2 separate regions of the Homo sapiens genome follow, and region 2 is linked to region 1. The links come from fine-mapping of genetic effects on gene expression. A gene starts in region 1. The other region holds a variant in brackets. All regions are shown on one strand. Distances are from middle to middle. Region 1 holds the start of IPO8 (importin 8). Region 2 overlaps IPO8 (importin 8).

Region 1 (8,346 bases):
CAAAGCATACAAAGTTTTCATGGGAACATCAGCTCTTTTTAATTACGTACTTTGGGTAAAATTTTTATTTTGATATAATTGTAGATTCACATGAAGTTGTAAGAAATGATACAGATAGATCCTATGTACGATTTTTCCAGTTTCCTTCAACAGTAACATCTTGTAAAACTATAGTACAACATCACAACTGGGATATGGACATTGATACAGTCAAGAAACGAACATTTCCATCATCAGAATTCCTCATATTGCCCTTCTACAGTCACACCCACTTCCCCCTTGCCACCACCTCCACTTTAACCCTTAGCAACCATGGATCCTTCTATATTTTTTAAATTTTAAGAATGTTATATAAATGGCATTTGACAAGATGCAACCTTTGGGATTGGCTTCTTTCCCTCAGCGTAATTCTCAGAAGATTCATCAAGGTTGCTACATGTATCTTTTTTTTTGTTGCTCAGTAGTATCCCATGGTATAGATGTACCATGTTTATTTAACCATTCACCCACTGAAGGATATCTGGATTGTTTCCAGATTTGGGTTATGATGAATAAAGCTGCATATACACTCACAAGGTTTTTTTTATGAGCACAAGTCTTCATTTGTCTAGGACCAATGCTCTGGAGTGCAATTGCTGTGTCATATGGTAGTTGCATATTCAGTTTTTTAAAGAAACTGCCCAATTGTTTTCAGAAAGGCTGTATCACTGTACATGTTACCACCAACATATAAGTGATCCAGTTTCTGTACATCCTCACCAGCGTTTGGTGGTGTCACCGTTTTTGATCTCTCCTTTTATGTTATTGGAATAACTACCTTAAGTCTCTCCCTTCTCCAATCTATCATCTTCAGTGCTGAGTTCAGTTTTAGACATGTGCCTTAAGTGATTTGAGGGATAGATATTGGTAGAAATGTATAGGCATTTGGATATATTTAGTTTAAGGGAAGAGATCTTACAACTAGTTTTGTAAGCTATCTTTGTTTAGTTGATGGTTAAAGTTATGTAAGTGGATGAAATTACTGAAAAATGGGTGGATGAGAAAGAGAAGATGGCTGAGGACAGAGTCCTGAGAAGCGTCGAAGACTTGGGCGATTGAGTAATCAAAGGGTTAGGAATGTATTCTGTAAGAGAAAACAAGAAAAGAGATAATTTAAAAATAGTATGAAATATGATACCGGATATTAGAGGCTGGGTGTGGTGGCTCACACCTGTAATCCTAATTTGGGAGGCTGAGGCTGCCAGATTGCTTGTGCCTAGCAGTTTGAGACCAGCCTGAGCAATGTGGTAAAACCCTGTCTCTACTAAAAATAAAGCTGGGCGTGGTGGCATGTGCCTGTAGTCCCGGCTACTTGGGAGGCTGAAGTGGGAGAATTACCTGAGCCCAGGAGGTCGAGGCTGCAGTGAGCAGTGATCATGCCTCTGCACTACAACCTAGGCAATGGAAGTGAGACGCCCTCCCCCAATCTCTCAATCTCTCTCTCTCTCTATACATACACACACACACACACACACACACACACACACACACGCGCGCGCGCGCGCGCGCGAGAGAGAGAAAATTTAAGTTGAGAACTAAAAATGTCTCTTGCAGTTGGTATACCCCCTAAAGAGGTCGGTGTTCATCTTTGCTTGGCAGTTTTAGTGGGAAATGAGGGGGAGAAGCCTGGGGATAGGTGGTTGAAGCATGAATGGGAAGTAAGCTGACACAGTGAATGAAGACCATTCTTTGGAATGAAGTGGAAAAGAATGAGCAATAATTAGCATTACTGAAGATTATTTTTTTGCTGGGGGAAATGTTTTTAGGCTGAGGTTGAATCAGTGGAGGAAAAGAGGCTGAAAAAGTACGAAAAAAACTTACACATTGTCAACAATGAGCACATTATAATGACTAAAATTTATTTTAATGAAAAAATGTATTTAAGAGAGGAGAGATTTATGGAACAGGGTCCTGGAGGAGATGGGAGAGAATGGGGTTCAGACTGCAGAGGAGATGAAGAGGGATAAGCGGAGATGAATTTGTTGTTGAGTTGAGCCTGAGGGTTTTGCTCATCTTTGCAGGGTTTGGTGAGAAGGCGTAGGGAGCTTGAGAAGAGTCCTGAGAGTTGAAACGCCACTGAGGGAATGGAAGATGTTGCTGATTAAAGGCAAGGAATAGGAATAGGATGGTTGCATCTGATTAAAGAATACATCTGATATCAGTTTGCACAGTGGGTCAAGGCTAGAGTTAAGAAGCTGAATTGGGGGTTTAATAGCAGAGAATGATGTGTAGTGAGTAATGGATAGACTAAGAACTGAAGTAGTGATTGAATTGGAAAACAAGCTTAGAATTTTTGAGGAAGAGAGAAATGGAAGAATTAGTTCTAATTATAAAAGAGGATATTGGAGTTAAGATTTTCAGAGATAAAAAATTTTTTAGACATTCATGATGTCCAAGAGAGTGGTTTAGTGAAATAGTGTTCATAAGACTCTGGAGTGCTAAGTTTATATTTTATTTTGAAATTGATGAGAAATCAAGGAAGAGACATAGTAATATTAACTTTTCAGAAACTTTCTTCTGATGATAGTGTGAATAATGGATTAAAGAGGGGCAATACTGGAAGCAATTAGACATGTTAAATTCACTGTGAAGCACTTTTGCATCCAACTGAGGGGGAAGCTTTCAAGCCACCAAGTTTTCAGCCACATGTTTTCTACTCTCTCAATTGAACTCAGTTAATTGACCCAATCTATCTTAATTATCTGCTCCTGAAAAGATCACAGCCCCTCAGCTGTGTTTTGCCCACATCATCATCTTTATTAAATGTAATTAGAACCCTCTCTTCTGGGTTAACCTCAGGAAGAACCAGCTCCTTGATATTTTCATGCCATTGAAATTGTGGCGCCAGATATGGCCACAGTGGATAGAAACAGTATAACTTTTCTGCTTACCTTTCACTACATTTTTGAGAAGGTCTGAAAATTTTTCATAAAACTCTCAGGGATGTAGTTTTCAGTTTCTGTGACCTTTGTCTTTCTGAAATGGGAGAGGTTCCCTTGTCCCCCTCACAGGGCGTGCATTGGGGGTGTGGCTCGCTTCTTCAGTGCCCCGCTGCTCAGACCTCTAGAGAAGCATACAGACCGGCAGGCTGTGGGGCTCCGACCCCTTGACAGAGTCTGGGGGTGAATGTTTACAGCTCCTGAAGCCCCAGTGGGTGTGTGTTACAGGATGCTCTTTCAGTTTGCCTTTAGGGGGCTTGTGTTAACCAGCTCAATTAGACCCTCTACCTTGTCGCACAGACAGCGAGCTTTCTGTATCCTGGGTTCTTGCCTTGGTGTACCAGAAGAATTGGATCACACGTGGGCTTGGAGAATGAGTGCAAAGTTTTATTGAGTGGAAGTAGCCCTCAGCAGATGAGGGACCCAGAAGGGAAATGGTTTTCCTCTGGAGTTAGGCCGCTTGGCGGCCCGGGCTCTTTTCCGACTGCCCAGGCCAACCTCCGCATCGTTCTGCCCGTGAATGGCCTGCGGATGTGCCAGCGAGCTCCTCTTCTTCCACCCTTATGCTCCTCTGGACGTCTGGCTGCCTGTGTACCTGCCTGCTAGGGTCTGGGGTTTTCATAGGCACAGTATGGGGGAGTGGCAGGCCAGGGTGGTCTTGGGAAATGCAACATTTGGGCTGGAAGGCAGGAGTGTCAGTCCTCACCTAGGTCGGTGGGCGTGGAGCCCTAGCAAGGGACCACACACTCCTCTACCCAGCACTTCACTTCGCCCATCCCTATCATTTAAAGGGACCACGCTCTTCCCTTCCCAGCACTCCCCTATCATTTCTACACTGTAAATTTTTTTTGTTTATATTTGTCTCATCTATCAGGTTGTGAATTCCTTCACATTAACTTGCATGGAATTCATCTTGTTATAATGTGGTACCTAAAAATCCTAGTACTCTGGTTCAAAAATATATGTTTAACAAATGTTCAGTGAAAGCGAATGAATGAATGAACGATGACTCCCACACACGGAGGAACCCTGTCCTCCTGTAAGGTACATGATTTGAAGGTCCCAACAAGTCTATCTTGGAACAGGCCCAGTTGCGATGCCCATACAGTTCTCGGACTAACAAAAAGTGTCACACCATCCAGATATGCTTAATTTGGAAGCAGCTGTAAGCAGACTCCCGGCCAGCTCAAGTTTCCTCACCTGGGAAGAGGCGGGAGGCTGTTTACCGTACGGAAGCATAGCGGCCGCCTGCCTGAGTTCGGGAGCGCGGGTTCCTTTCCGGGAAAGAAGCCTAGGCCGTTTTCCGTACAGCAGCATGGCGGCCGCCGACGGGAGGCGGTCATAGCATCACGCCCGGGGGAAGAGGCCGCCGTAAAGGAAGCTCTGCTTCCTCTTCTTCCTTCTCCCGCCTCCCACCGGCTGTCGTAAAACGGTGAATGGAGAGCGAGTTGTGGGGGGGAAAAAGGGAGGACAGGGGGCGCGGAGTCAGAGTGGCGCAGCAAGTGGCCGCAGGTGGCGACGGTGGCGGGGGGTGGGGTGTGAGGTAATCCAGGGGTCGCGGAAGAGGAGGCTGAGAGGGTCAAAAGAAAACTAAAGCTGCAGTCCGGCCTACTGTTCCGGGGGCCGCGGAGCCCCCACCCGGGGAGATGGACCTCAACCGGATCATCCAGGCGCTGAAGGGCACCATCGACCCGAAGTTGCGGATTGCAGCCGAGAACGAGCTCAACCAGGTGAGGAGAGGGTCTTCGGCGACCCTCTTCCGCCGAAGGGGCGCCCCTGCCGGCTGGCCGGGCTCCCTCTCCCCGGCGCCCCTCGTCCTCACCCCCACCGGGCTGGGGCTGACGCCTCACGGCTGGTCCCGCTCTCCGACCCCGCTGCCCCCCGGTCCAGTGGAGCAGGGCTCCCAGGATCTTTGCCGAACAGCTCGCGCACCTGTTGGCCACCTTTGCACCTTTTCGTGTCGTCTCCCTTCTCCAGGGCAGTTTGTTCTGCCTACTTGGTCCGCAAGAAGCAGTTTTTGCAACCTGTGCTAGTGTTTTCAGGGTGTGATTTATTTTCCTTAAGTGCGCGGACTTGGGGAGCAGGTGGGAATTTTACTTACAGTTCAAATCTGAGTTCAGCTTTTTTCCAAACCCAGCCCTTTTTAGGTGTTGCTGTGGAGCACGCTGCCCACCGCCTCCTCCTGTCGGGTTGGCAGGACTGTTTTGACACCGATTGGCCGAGTTTTGCGGAGCGCTGGGCAGTGCTGTTGGGAGAGTGCTCTGGGAAGAATAGGCAGTTTTCATGGTGATACTGCTTTATCTAAGACACATCAAAGTAAGATGTGTTGGAGAAATTTCTTATGAATGCTAAAATGTGTAAGACTTCTTTCTTTTCTCCGTCTCCTGTTCTTCCTAATTAGCCTTGACGTCTTTCCAGCGTTACCCCCACACTTCAAAATTTTAATGATCCCAAACTCCAGCTTATTTCTTCTTCCCTACCGGTACTTAAGAATCACAGACCTCTTACTAAAAAGTAGGGATTAAGAGCTACCACTGGGATGGAGCAACAGCTGTTTTAGGTTGTGATGACTTGTAAAATGTAAATATTCCAAAATCAGCTGTTCTCAAAGCGTTGCCCAGGACCTGGAGCTTCAGCATCACCTGAGAACTTACAAATTATGCAAATTACGGGGCTTCAGTCCAGACTTAACGAATCAGAAACTGTGGGGGTGGGACCAGTTGTATTTTAACTAGCTCCCCCAGGTGATTCTGTGCCTCCCGAAGTGTGACTGAAGTGTGACTGTCCTAAGTAAATGTTTCTGTTGGAATTGACTTTAAAAAGCTGCGTGTTGGGAATCTTTGAAAGGGATTATTTTAATAGGAAACCTAGGTGGAGTTTGGAGTAGGTATAAATGCAGGATTCCCCAGAGATAAAAGGGAGAGTGAAGACACTGCCAATGGAGAGGAGGTTGGGTTGAACTAATGCCCAAAGATAATGCACTGGTGCCTGAAAAAGAAATGGACTGTCACTTAGAATAGGGGGAAGTTAAAGTCAGTACCTGTCCCAGGCTTTGCAGAGTAAAAGTACTGTATGTTGGCTGGCTGGAAGAATAGTAATCCAGGGGTTAGTTAGGAAGAACAAAGCAGGAGCTGAATTTGCAGTCTACTAATATGAACAGGGGAGTTGGCCTGTTTATGACCCCCTTCTCACAATGAGGCCAGGTGTTCCTTTGATATCAGGTTACACTTCCCTGCCCTTCACCTAACCTTCATTTCTTTCTGATTCATCAGTATATAAGTACAGTTGATGTTATAGAAGTGGAAAAAGTATATGAGAAAGCCTGCAGAACTAGGAGACATTTAAGACCCAATCCTATTTTTTTTCCCATGGTATTTCAGACAAAAGCAGGCACGTTCAGGGTGGTATGGCCGTAGACTCTTGATGGTAGTTCAATCCAAATCCATTCCATCATCACTCTGCCCTGCCCCATAGTGTCCCACCTCATCACAGACCGTGGTTTCCCCAGCAATTTCTAAAGGTAGCTTATTGCTATACCACTCATTTAGCATTTATAATTTATATAAAGCATAGTGAAATGCTTTAAGGTTTTTTGAATTGGCTGTAAATAGAACAAAATATAATGTCACCTAACAGTGTAGTAAAACATGCTTATGATGATGGGTTTTGCCTGCTTGTCCTTTGCCACCACTGTAACATCCGACTTTGTTGGATAAATGAGTGGGTAAATCACCATAAGTGGTTATGGTCCACCTCTTCGACTTTAGTCTAGGTCTCCCCTCAGCAAGTATGTTCTGCATAGGGAATGGGAGCAGCTTCTGCGGTATACTGATGGATCTGTCAATTGCCGTTTAGAAAAATAAGCAGCTTCTGCACCACAGCCTATATTCCAATGGATAAATTCTCATTTGGAGCTATATATTTTTTTCAGGCCAGCATTTTTCTGTTACTAGTGAGTAGTTTTCTGACTGCTATTTGTGATATTGTTTCTGTGGGAAAATGTATTTGTAGTTTTATCTCAGGATATTGAGCGAACCCTATACATCTTCCTCATTTTCTATAGACCAGAAGTCCCATTAGAGGCAGCATAGAGGAATAGGAATGGGTAGGTACCTTGCTTAAGTAATTCATCCAGAAAGGTGTCCTCTTTTAATAAATTATCCTTCACATGGCCTCGGTAGGGAAATAAGTTTTTACTTTGATTGCCAAGCTTTTGAATCTCTGCTTTCCATGCATGTGTACATGCAATTTTCATTACCCTTTATTAAGATAATTTGTTTATGTAAATAGCACAGAAATATTTATTAAGTTACTATGTTGCAGATATTGGTATAAGAGTTTGTTTCCATGGAGCTGGGGATACAGGCAAGTAACTAATATAATTTCAGGTCATAAGTGCTGTGGAGAGTAAAGCCCGAGCAAGAGTGTTGGGATGTATAGCCATTCTCTGAAGAATGGCATTGAGTAGAGAGTTGGATGTTGTGAAGGAATGGGCCAGGCAAAGAGCAGAGAGAGGAACAACAGTTCAGAAAAGGCCCTCAACTTGGCGTGCTGGAGGACTGAGAGGGAATATCGGTTCAGAAAAGGCCCTCAACTTGGCATGCTGGAGGACTAGAAAGGTTAATGCAGCGGAGCAGTGAGTCAGAGGATGGGAGGAGACATCAGTTTTTTGCTTTATGAGTTCTCATAAATGCAGAATTTAGTTAAGCAAACTGCGTATTTGCAGAAAACTTCACAGATACAAAATATCCTCAGGAAATCATTGAGAAATTAGTCTTATTTATTTTTTAGAAACTCGAAGCCTGAAGAGGCACAAAGAAATTGAGTAACTATTTCTGAGTAAAGTAGTATGAAAATATATCTGACTATATCTCTGAATGTTTTAGCTGGCCAAGTTAATATAGAATGAATCAATGCTGAAAGAAGACAAGGTTTCTGAAATTTTTTAAAATGGCAAACAGTTGCAAAAAGAGGAGTTTCAAAATCTGTACAATGGCAACAGTGTTGACATAAAAGTCTCTGCAATAGGTATATTACTTTCAAATAAGTAGCATTTATTTAAGTGTAAAGGTTATTTTGTATGTGTGGAATAAGATTTTTAAACAAATAACGGAAGTCAGTTTTTTTATGATTAGAATAAACTATATAGATGTTTTAATCTTTGATTCATGACAAGATCTTTCAGTATTTACAAAGATAAACATGAGTTATAATACATATGTAGAAGGTGAAGGCTGGGTGAATCTGTGTTAATTTTGCCTCCTATCAACGGTTGTTAGAACAAATCTGTTTTCTTAAAAACTGCTTTGAAATTCTGATGGTTTCAATTATGGATAAAAAAGAATTTACATGCCACAGATTTGTGATC
Region 2 (8,346 bases), 62 kb after region 1:
TTTAAGCAACTTAGAGGAAGCATTTAGTAGAAAAATGTCTAATGTTTACTGGTCAAACTTTTTTTCTTTCTGAATAAAATTTTCCTTGTCCTTATATTTTTCTTATGCTATTTTATAGCACAGGAGTTTAGTAGACTGCTTAAATTAAGTTCAGCTTACTATCTTACTAGATGCTGAGTTTTTGAAACATCTTTCACCTCTTAGGGTTTGGGTAGATTATGTGTGCTGAGAAACCTTGTAGATCAATCTAATGTTGGAAGAGTCTAAGAAACTCTTCATTCCCCCCAACCATTGTATAGGACTTTTATGCTGTCAAATATAGGTATTTCTGCTTTATTAAAACTCCTTATGCCGAGGCCCATATATAACATTTATATTAATCATAAATTGATATTACAGCAAGATTCACCATGTTAATTGCAGACTCCCAATAGGTCTTTGAAAATAATTGGTTTACAAAATTTGATTTACATAGCATTTCATACAGTACAAAACAGGGAATGTCTCTGTATGATACCAACAGATGAACCTTAGAGTATGCCTTGGACATTTCTTTTTGTAGTTTCTCCAGAATTTGTTCTTTATTCCACTTCTCATGTCTACATTTTTTTTTTCTTCAAAATTTGCAGGCATCATGACCGGAAGATGTGTATAATAGGACTGAGTATCCTTTTGGAATTGCAAAATCGACCTCCTGCAGTAGATGCTGTGGTGGGACAGATTGTTCCCTCAATTCTTTTCCTTTTCCTTGGCCTAAAGCAGGTCTGTGCTACTAGACAACTGGTAAACCGGGAAGATCGTTCAAAAGCAGAGAAAGCTGATATGGAAGAAAATGGTAAAGTCTTCTAATTGAAATTAATGTTACAATTGATTTTGATTTGTGTATGCATTTTATATGAATACTAGTCTATATGGAGACATTAAACAGATTTACATTCTTCGGCCTGCTACACATATAACAAATATTTTGGGCTTGGTTGACTTGCTATTAATTGTATCATGCTATATAAATTTAGATTTATGCACCTTCTGACACCTAATATACTCAGCGGTTTTTTTTATGGAGCCTAATAGATGCTGTTACACATTAGGAAACACATTTATAACAATCAAATGGTCTTGACTGTAAGTTAGCAATCTAGTATCTAACTTTCTTGTTTGTGCTAACAGCCTCATCAAGGCAGTAGCCATGAGTTAAATGAATCATTACATTAAGAGCTGAAGTGTTAGTACCACAGATTAGTAGAGAGTGTCTTTTTTTTCTTTTTCTGGAATGGTTCTTAGGTGACTCATTAGCAAAAATTACATTTGAGAGACGTCCATATTTGTGATTTAAATATAAATTAAGGTAAAGTACATAAATGAAGTGGATATACTTGAGAATCAGAATAAGATTGTTAGAGTTGAATATTAGACCTTTGTTTTGTTTAATGATGAGATTGCGGAGCTACTTGCTAGAGACTAGGAAGTAGCATTCTCCTATTCCAGGTGGATTTTTTCCTCTCCTGGTTAAAAACAGATACTTTGTTAGCTGAGAAAAATCAGAACTCTTCCTGGTAAACATACAGCTCTATTTTTGATGCTAAATTCTGTGATTTTAGCATGGATAGATTTAAAACACTTTTAACTGGCATCATCCCAGTTTGTTCATATACCAGAGATTATAAACTACCCTTTTTCTCCCCTCCACAGCACAAAATACAGCTTCTAATTTGTTTTTCTGAAATCTGTGTAGGTCTTTTGAAGAAATGCTTCTTTATTAGAAGTGTTGCATGTGTGATTTTTGTTTTGTTTTGTTTTGTTTTTAGCTAACTGTGTGTCAACAGTTGTAGAATTCTTTTATTTTTTCCAGTATGTTATGATCTCTAATTTCTTGTTTTGGCAACTCTTTATTGGCTTATACTGTATGGCTTGAGGGAAAATTTTCTGGTAATATCCCACACTTTCTTGTACTTCCTACTAAAGTATGGAATGATTAACTAGTGGAGGTATTTCTCAGTCTTTTTGTATTAATAGTTATAATTTGCCATGCATTTTTTCGTGTATTTGGTCCAAACTCTGGTTAAGTGCCTTATTCCTAAAACTACCTAGTTCAATCTACCTGCTTCAATATGGTGTGTCTAATAGAACTAGTTTTAGGTTAATATTACCTGGTTTGGGTTTACTCCAGGATTTCTCTCTTATCTTGATTTTTGTTCTGCATTTACTGCCTTCCTGTTCCAGTATTTCAGTTACAATCTAACTGCTAGGAACAGATTGACACTGAAAATAGATACAGAATCCATGGTGATACATAATGTAGTTCAAGTTTTTAACTTTTCAAGCGACATGTAGCTATTTTTCTTTACATTTTTGCTATTTCTTTTTATTATAAATTAGCAAATTATATATTTATGGAGTACAAAGTGATGTTATGATTTGTGAATATAATGCGGAATGATTAAATCAAACTAATATATCCATCACCTTAAATACCCTTTTTAATGGTGGGAACATTTGAAATTTACAATCTTGCCAATTTTGAAATGTACATATACTATTAACTGTATTCACCATGCTGTACAATAGATACCAAAACAAAACAAAACAAAACAAAAACCTAATTCTTCCTGAGACTTTGTACCCTTTTACCAACATTCCCATATTCCCACCACCTCTAGCCTCTGGTAACCACCATTCTATTCTCTACTTCTATGAGTTTGATTGTTTTAGATTCTATGTATAAGTGAGAACAGGCAGTATGTGTCTTTCTGTGCCTGGCTTATTTCACTTATCATAATGTCCAAGTTCATCAGTGTTGTTGGAATTGACAGAATTACCTTTTTAAAAGCTGAATAGTGTTTCATTTTAAAGAATCCACATTTTCTTTATTCATCCGTTGTTGATGGACACTTAGGTTGATTCTGTAACTTGGCTATTGTGAATAATGCTGCGATGAACACAGGGCTGCTGACATCTGTTCTACGTATTGATTTAAAATATTTTAGATATATATCCTGAAGTGGGATGGCTGGATCTGTATTTTTACTGTTTCTACTAGCAGAAATGATCTCATTTGGGCATTTCTAAGCACTTTATAATCAACTCAGTTAATTAAGAGGACTGAATTCTCAATAGGAAGTCATTGTTTAAAACACATGCACTGACCGTACAGTCACTTTTTTTTTAAACAAAGGTAATTTTGAAATCTGCAATTGAATAATATTCTTGTATTAATGAACTTGCATAGCCTAACAGTAGTAATGTTCATCTGGATAACAGGTTTAGGGAACTTGTTTTCAGTGAGGAGGATAAGGACATTCTCAACTTAGCAAACTCTACAGTAAAGATAAGGTTTATTTATTTTATTTTTTATTTTTATTTTTTGACTCTCCTCTTTAGACCAGGGATAAGATTTATTTTTATTAAAATTTTGTGGAAGATTTTTTCCTTTCCAGAGTGTAGTTTTATAGTCTTTGGTTTTTGTCGTGAAGTTTTATATTTTGTCCTTATGTGTTTTGATTCCTTTTAAATAATTAATGGGTTCACAGAGGAGATTTCAAGTGATGAAGAGGAGACAAATGTAACTGCTCAAGCAATGCAGTCAAATAATGGAAGAGGTGAAGATGAGGAGGAGGAAGATGATGACTGGGATGAAGAAGTATTGGAAGAAACCGCGCTTGAGGGGTTCAGTACTCCACTTGACCTTGACAATAGTGTGGATGAATATCAGTTTTTTACACAAGCTCTGATAAGTATGTCTTTACTTCCCCACATCTTCTGATATTTTTTTTTCTAAACTCTTTCTTCATTTCTTCCTGTTTTGATATTTGCCCAAGATTGGTCTAGGTTCTTTTAAAAATTTTTTTGTTTATTCCTTATGATAGAAATCCCCAAACATACATACATGAAATGATAGAAATTAAAATAATGAAACACCTATCACCCAATCCTAGCAGCTTTCATCATTGAGAAGTAGCAGGGTGAGCCTGTATGTTATCCTTGCAAAAGTAATATGTGGAGTATCTGTGTATATTGTTCATCCTTTAGGCATAAATGGGCAAGCATTTTTATAGCAAAGAATGAAGTGTTTCAGGCATACATTGCTTAAAAATTGTGGCTAACAACCTACTAGTTATTCACAATCCCTAGAATGAAATTGCTGCCGTAAGAGGGTGACTTTTTACTTTGTAAGTAATTTG[C/G]CAATTTTATACAACAAAGAACAGTATAATTACAGTTACAGGACTCATAAATGATTCGGGGGGAGAAAATATTTGCCACATATGCATAATAGGCATAATGTACACAGTGTACAGAGGCCATCCTCAGATACATAAGACCAGTAACCTAGTAGAAAATGGAAATGGAAAATTTACAGAATAAAAACAAGCCAATGAGGATATTTAGAAAATTATTAATCAAATAAATTATTTTAAATCTCATTAATATAGATTATTTGTTTTATGGTTAGATAGTATTTCCATAGTTACATTGTAATTTAGTTCCACTGTGGGACATTTAAGATTGTTTCCAATGTTTTTACCATTATGAGGGTTATTAAAATGAACATCCTTACATGTAAATGTTTTTACTAATAAGGCAATATTAGCTTAATATATTGGCATTTTTTAGTGTTGCTACAAATAACATTAATGAAGAAAAAACTACCTAGATGTTCTTATTGAAATTCAGAGGAATTGGAGGCAGAGAACACAGGAAACTATATTCCAAAGCATGGGAAACGTAACAGCATAAACGTGGAGATGGAAATATGGAGGATGTGGCCTAGTGTAGTTCCAGACATGGGTGTGTCATAATCACCAAGGAGGCTTTTAGGTCTTGAGTAGGATCTCAGGAGATGTATTTTTAAAGATGCTTCTCAAGTGACAAGCAACTTTAAACCAGCATGTAGGGGCCACTGCTTAAAGACTGTGAAGGAACGCAGTTGGGCTGGGCTATAGTGGCCTTGAATTCTGGACTGAGGTGGTCCATCCCATTGCCCATTGGAATAGCGTTGAAAGTTGTGTTCTGAGGCGGTGACCTTTTAGATGTGGTAATTCACTTCAGGGGAGTTACCCGGTGATGGATGATGTGCAGAAAAAACTGGAAAGGACTAGATGTGGGAGCCAAGTGTTAGAGGTTCACTTTATTAATTTAGATGTATAGAGACCTGGAATGGGGAGGGTGACATTTGATGGAAAGCAGCATACAGATGAAAGACATTAAGAAAGAAGCAGAGCTTTGGGTGTGGAGAGGGCATGCTCAGGGATGTTAAGGATGCACAGTAGTGGACTGGGAGACTAATAGAACTGGTGAGATAAATGGAGAGATAGAAGGTTTGGGAGGAAATTGTTAAATTTGGTTTTAGTTGTGTTGAGTTTGAGATGAGCTATTCAAATGGAACAGTCCAGGAGGCTTAGGGGAAGGTTTTTCCTAGAGGTACAGATTTGAATCCTTGGGGTGGTAGCAATACTAAAGCTGCAGGTAGTATGAAAATTCCAGAGGAAAATGGTAACAAGTGAGTACTGGTGTTCTGGATTTTAGAGAACATCCATAGAAGACAGCAAAGGAGACAGAGAACTAGGCAGACTAGAGATTTGCAATGTCCTAACCTTCCTTTGATTTCCCACATAGCTGGGTACTAAGTGGGTACTCAGAAATAATCCTTTGTTGGCGTAAGTTTCATTACCTTGTGTGTGTTGTAGTACTGTACTCTTTGTCTCTTACTGTCTGGGATAATTTCTTTGTAATTTGATCATGTTACTACTTGTTCTGTAAATTAATAGTCGCTGTACCCTCCTGTCTTTTCCTCCCAAAATGCAACAGCTGTGCAGAGTCGAGATGCAGCCTGGTACCAGCTGCTGATGGCACCACTCAGCGAGGATCAGAGGACAGCACTGCAGGAGGTGTACACACTGGCAGAGCACCGACGGACGGTGGCAGGTCAGCCAGAGTAACCTCCAGAGTGGAGTGCATGTGTCAGAGTGCCAACAGACAGCCTTATTTGATGAGCCAGGTGGCACCTAAACACTGTTTTTGAAATTGTTAGAGACTTACCCTTTAAGATAATAAGGAATTGTCATTATTGTATGATTGTTTTAATCACTCATGATGTCTTAGCTTTGCAAAAACCTGCACATTAATATGTATTTCCTAGTGGTGTTCTCATTCACATTCTTATCCTATGTTGGAGGCAAAGGTACAAAGTAAGGGTTGGGATAAGTCTTGCCGAGGGAGACTTAATCAGTTGGATCACTCCCCTAAACATTTCAACCGTGGGCCAAAGGGACTTGACGAATTCTTGCAAGGAGCTTGTATTCCTGGAAATGGAATGCTCTCTATTTCTCATTGTTGGGCTTTATTTGACATTGTTTCTTGTTGTTGATTTTCAGTTTTTAAGCTGGAGGAATTACTCTGTGTTGATTATTGTAGTTACTTGTAGATTGTCATTGGAAAAGATTTTGTAGTTACAAAAAAATTTTAGTAGGAAACATGGCAAACTAGACATCTAGAGTTTAGAATGCTGGCTCTTCTGCATGGACTTAGATTTTCAGTTCTGTGCAGATTCTCAGTCAGCCTTCCTGATATGAGAAGTCTGGGCCCCCTTTCAGCAGTAGAGACAGTGAAGTAGAATCCACCTCTGAGACGTGTTTTCTTTTCACTCGTTTTTTGCAGATTTTCCGATGGTAGTGAACATACCACCTTATTGACATAGGTCTGTTATTCTTAGTTATTCTTTGGCAGGATAACTAATACTACCAGTCACATTCTTTCACAGTTCTAAGCATATAAAGAATCTGGCTCCTTTGAGTCATCTCCAACTTTGTCACCTTAAGCATTCTTTTTTTTTCTTCTCCCCTTTTCTTTTGAAAAATGCTAGAGGCAAAGAAGAAGATTGAACAACAGGGAGGCTTCACCTTTGAAAACAAAGGAGTCCTCTCCGCATTTAATTTTGGGACTGTGCCCAGCAACAACTGAAGGAAAGAACATCAGCTGACCAAATGTCATCGCTGCATTTTATTTCACAAGAGGAGTGTGAGGGTCAAGGGGATGAAATGAGGGGCTGCTTTTAGGGCCCTCCTGCTGTGCCAGTTACCATCTGGCATTAGGCAGCACTTTTATCTACTCTTTCCCCTTTGACCTTTGTCACCCTGAAATATATATTTTAAACAGCTACTGTAAGTATGAAATGAAAGAAAAACAATCATTGGACGGAAAAGGACAACCCATATGTTCCAAAGGCTGAATGCCCAAGGTTGTTTTAGAGGATTGGATAGACTTGCACGTCTCAGGTTTTTGCCATGCAGAATCAATGGATTTATGCGGATAACAGTGCCTTCTGTTGTACATGAATTATCAGAAAAAAATTTTTGGAGTGCATTGCAATTTTTTTTAAAGCATAAAACATATTTCTAGATACAACATAAACCTTGGTTATATGTCAACTATTCTGCATTTTACTCTGTGAATTTATTGTTAGGCAGTTACTGCAAGTCACTCTGGTTTCAAAATCTTCACGGCTCCCTCTGCTCACCCTGCTGCTGGGGGGCTTTTTTCAGGGGTTGTATTATAAAATATGCACTGGCTGTGGTTTTTCATAAGATGTTTTGTGGCTTTTTAAAGAAGTGTCTTACTCCCTCTTCTCTCATTTTTTTCTGCCTTGAAAAGGGGTGGTATTTCTTTTGGGGTCAACAAATACACATATCAGTTTCACTCCTAACCTTGTAAGTTCAGGACTCATTTTCTTGGCAGCAAGTGGCAGGGGCTCTTTAGTCACTGGAGTTAACAGTAAGTCTGAGTATATTCTGAATAATGTAATTATGCAATTAATTGATAATCATACCTAAAGCACATTGAACTTCTAAGAGACAGGTGCTACGTAAGCACACTGTCTTTCTGGATGGGGACTTGTATTTTAAATAACTTATCATTCCAGCTATGTTGGACTAGGGTCCAAAGCATTTTATAATATTTTTTTTTAATCTAGGAAAAAGACCCAAACAAATCTAACTTCTTGCTTTCTCACCTATTTGAATTTTCTCCTACCTAATTTGTTTGTGTCTTTATTATAGCTCAGTTTGACTTCTCAAACTTTTCAAGGGTTGGGGCAGCTGCACTTTTAGGTTGCCTATAGGAAATATTGCATATGGAGATTACAGTGTTTTTCTGACCTAGTTCAAGACCAGAACATGGGTCATAGGGTTTTTATTCAGCAAAATGAAAACGTATCTTCAGAACTTAACATATTACTGGATGTGATACAGATTTTGCTTTCTGTGGAATTGAAAATTCACAAAAATTCACAGCTTAAATTTCCCATCAGTGACTGGAGGAATTTTTTTCAGGTGCTTCCTATATTACCATCCC

What was found. PIP is the estimated chance that this variant, and not a neighbour inherited with it, causes the effect. A credible set is the group of variants that fine-mapping cannot tell apart.
Region 2: its variant is the best candidate, but not a certain one, in a credible set for the expression of IPO8 in transverse colon (GTEx, PIP 0.55).

What each region holds. Positions count from the first base shown.
Region 1 is chr12:30,691,926-30,700,271 of GRCh38, reverse strand. It overlaps IPO8 (importin 8), which reads left to right and starts at 4,403. Exons shown (of 25, transcript NM_006390.4): 1 at 4,403-4,708. The coding sequence starts at 4,625. RefSeq lists an enhancer at 4,014-4,513 and a silencer at 4,604-4,653.
Region 2 is chr12:30,629,471-30,637,816 of GRCh38, reverse strand. It overlaps IPO8 (importin 8), which reads left to right. Exons shown (of 25, transcript NM_006390.4): 22 at 630-835; 23 at 3,531-3,734; 24 at 5,806-5,922; 25 at 6,860-8,346. The coding sequence ends at 6,957. Among named protein-coding and RNA genes, the nearest start is that of IPO8, 62 kb to the left of the region's middle. The variant C/G (reference allele first, on the strand shown) is at 4,182.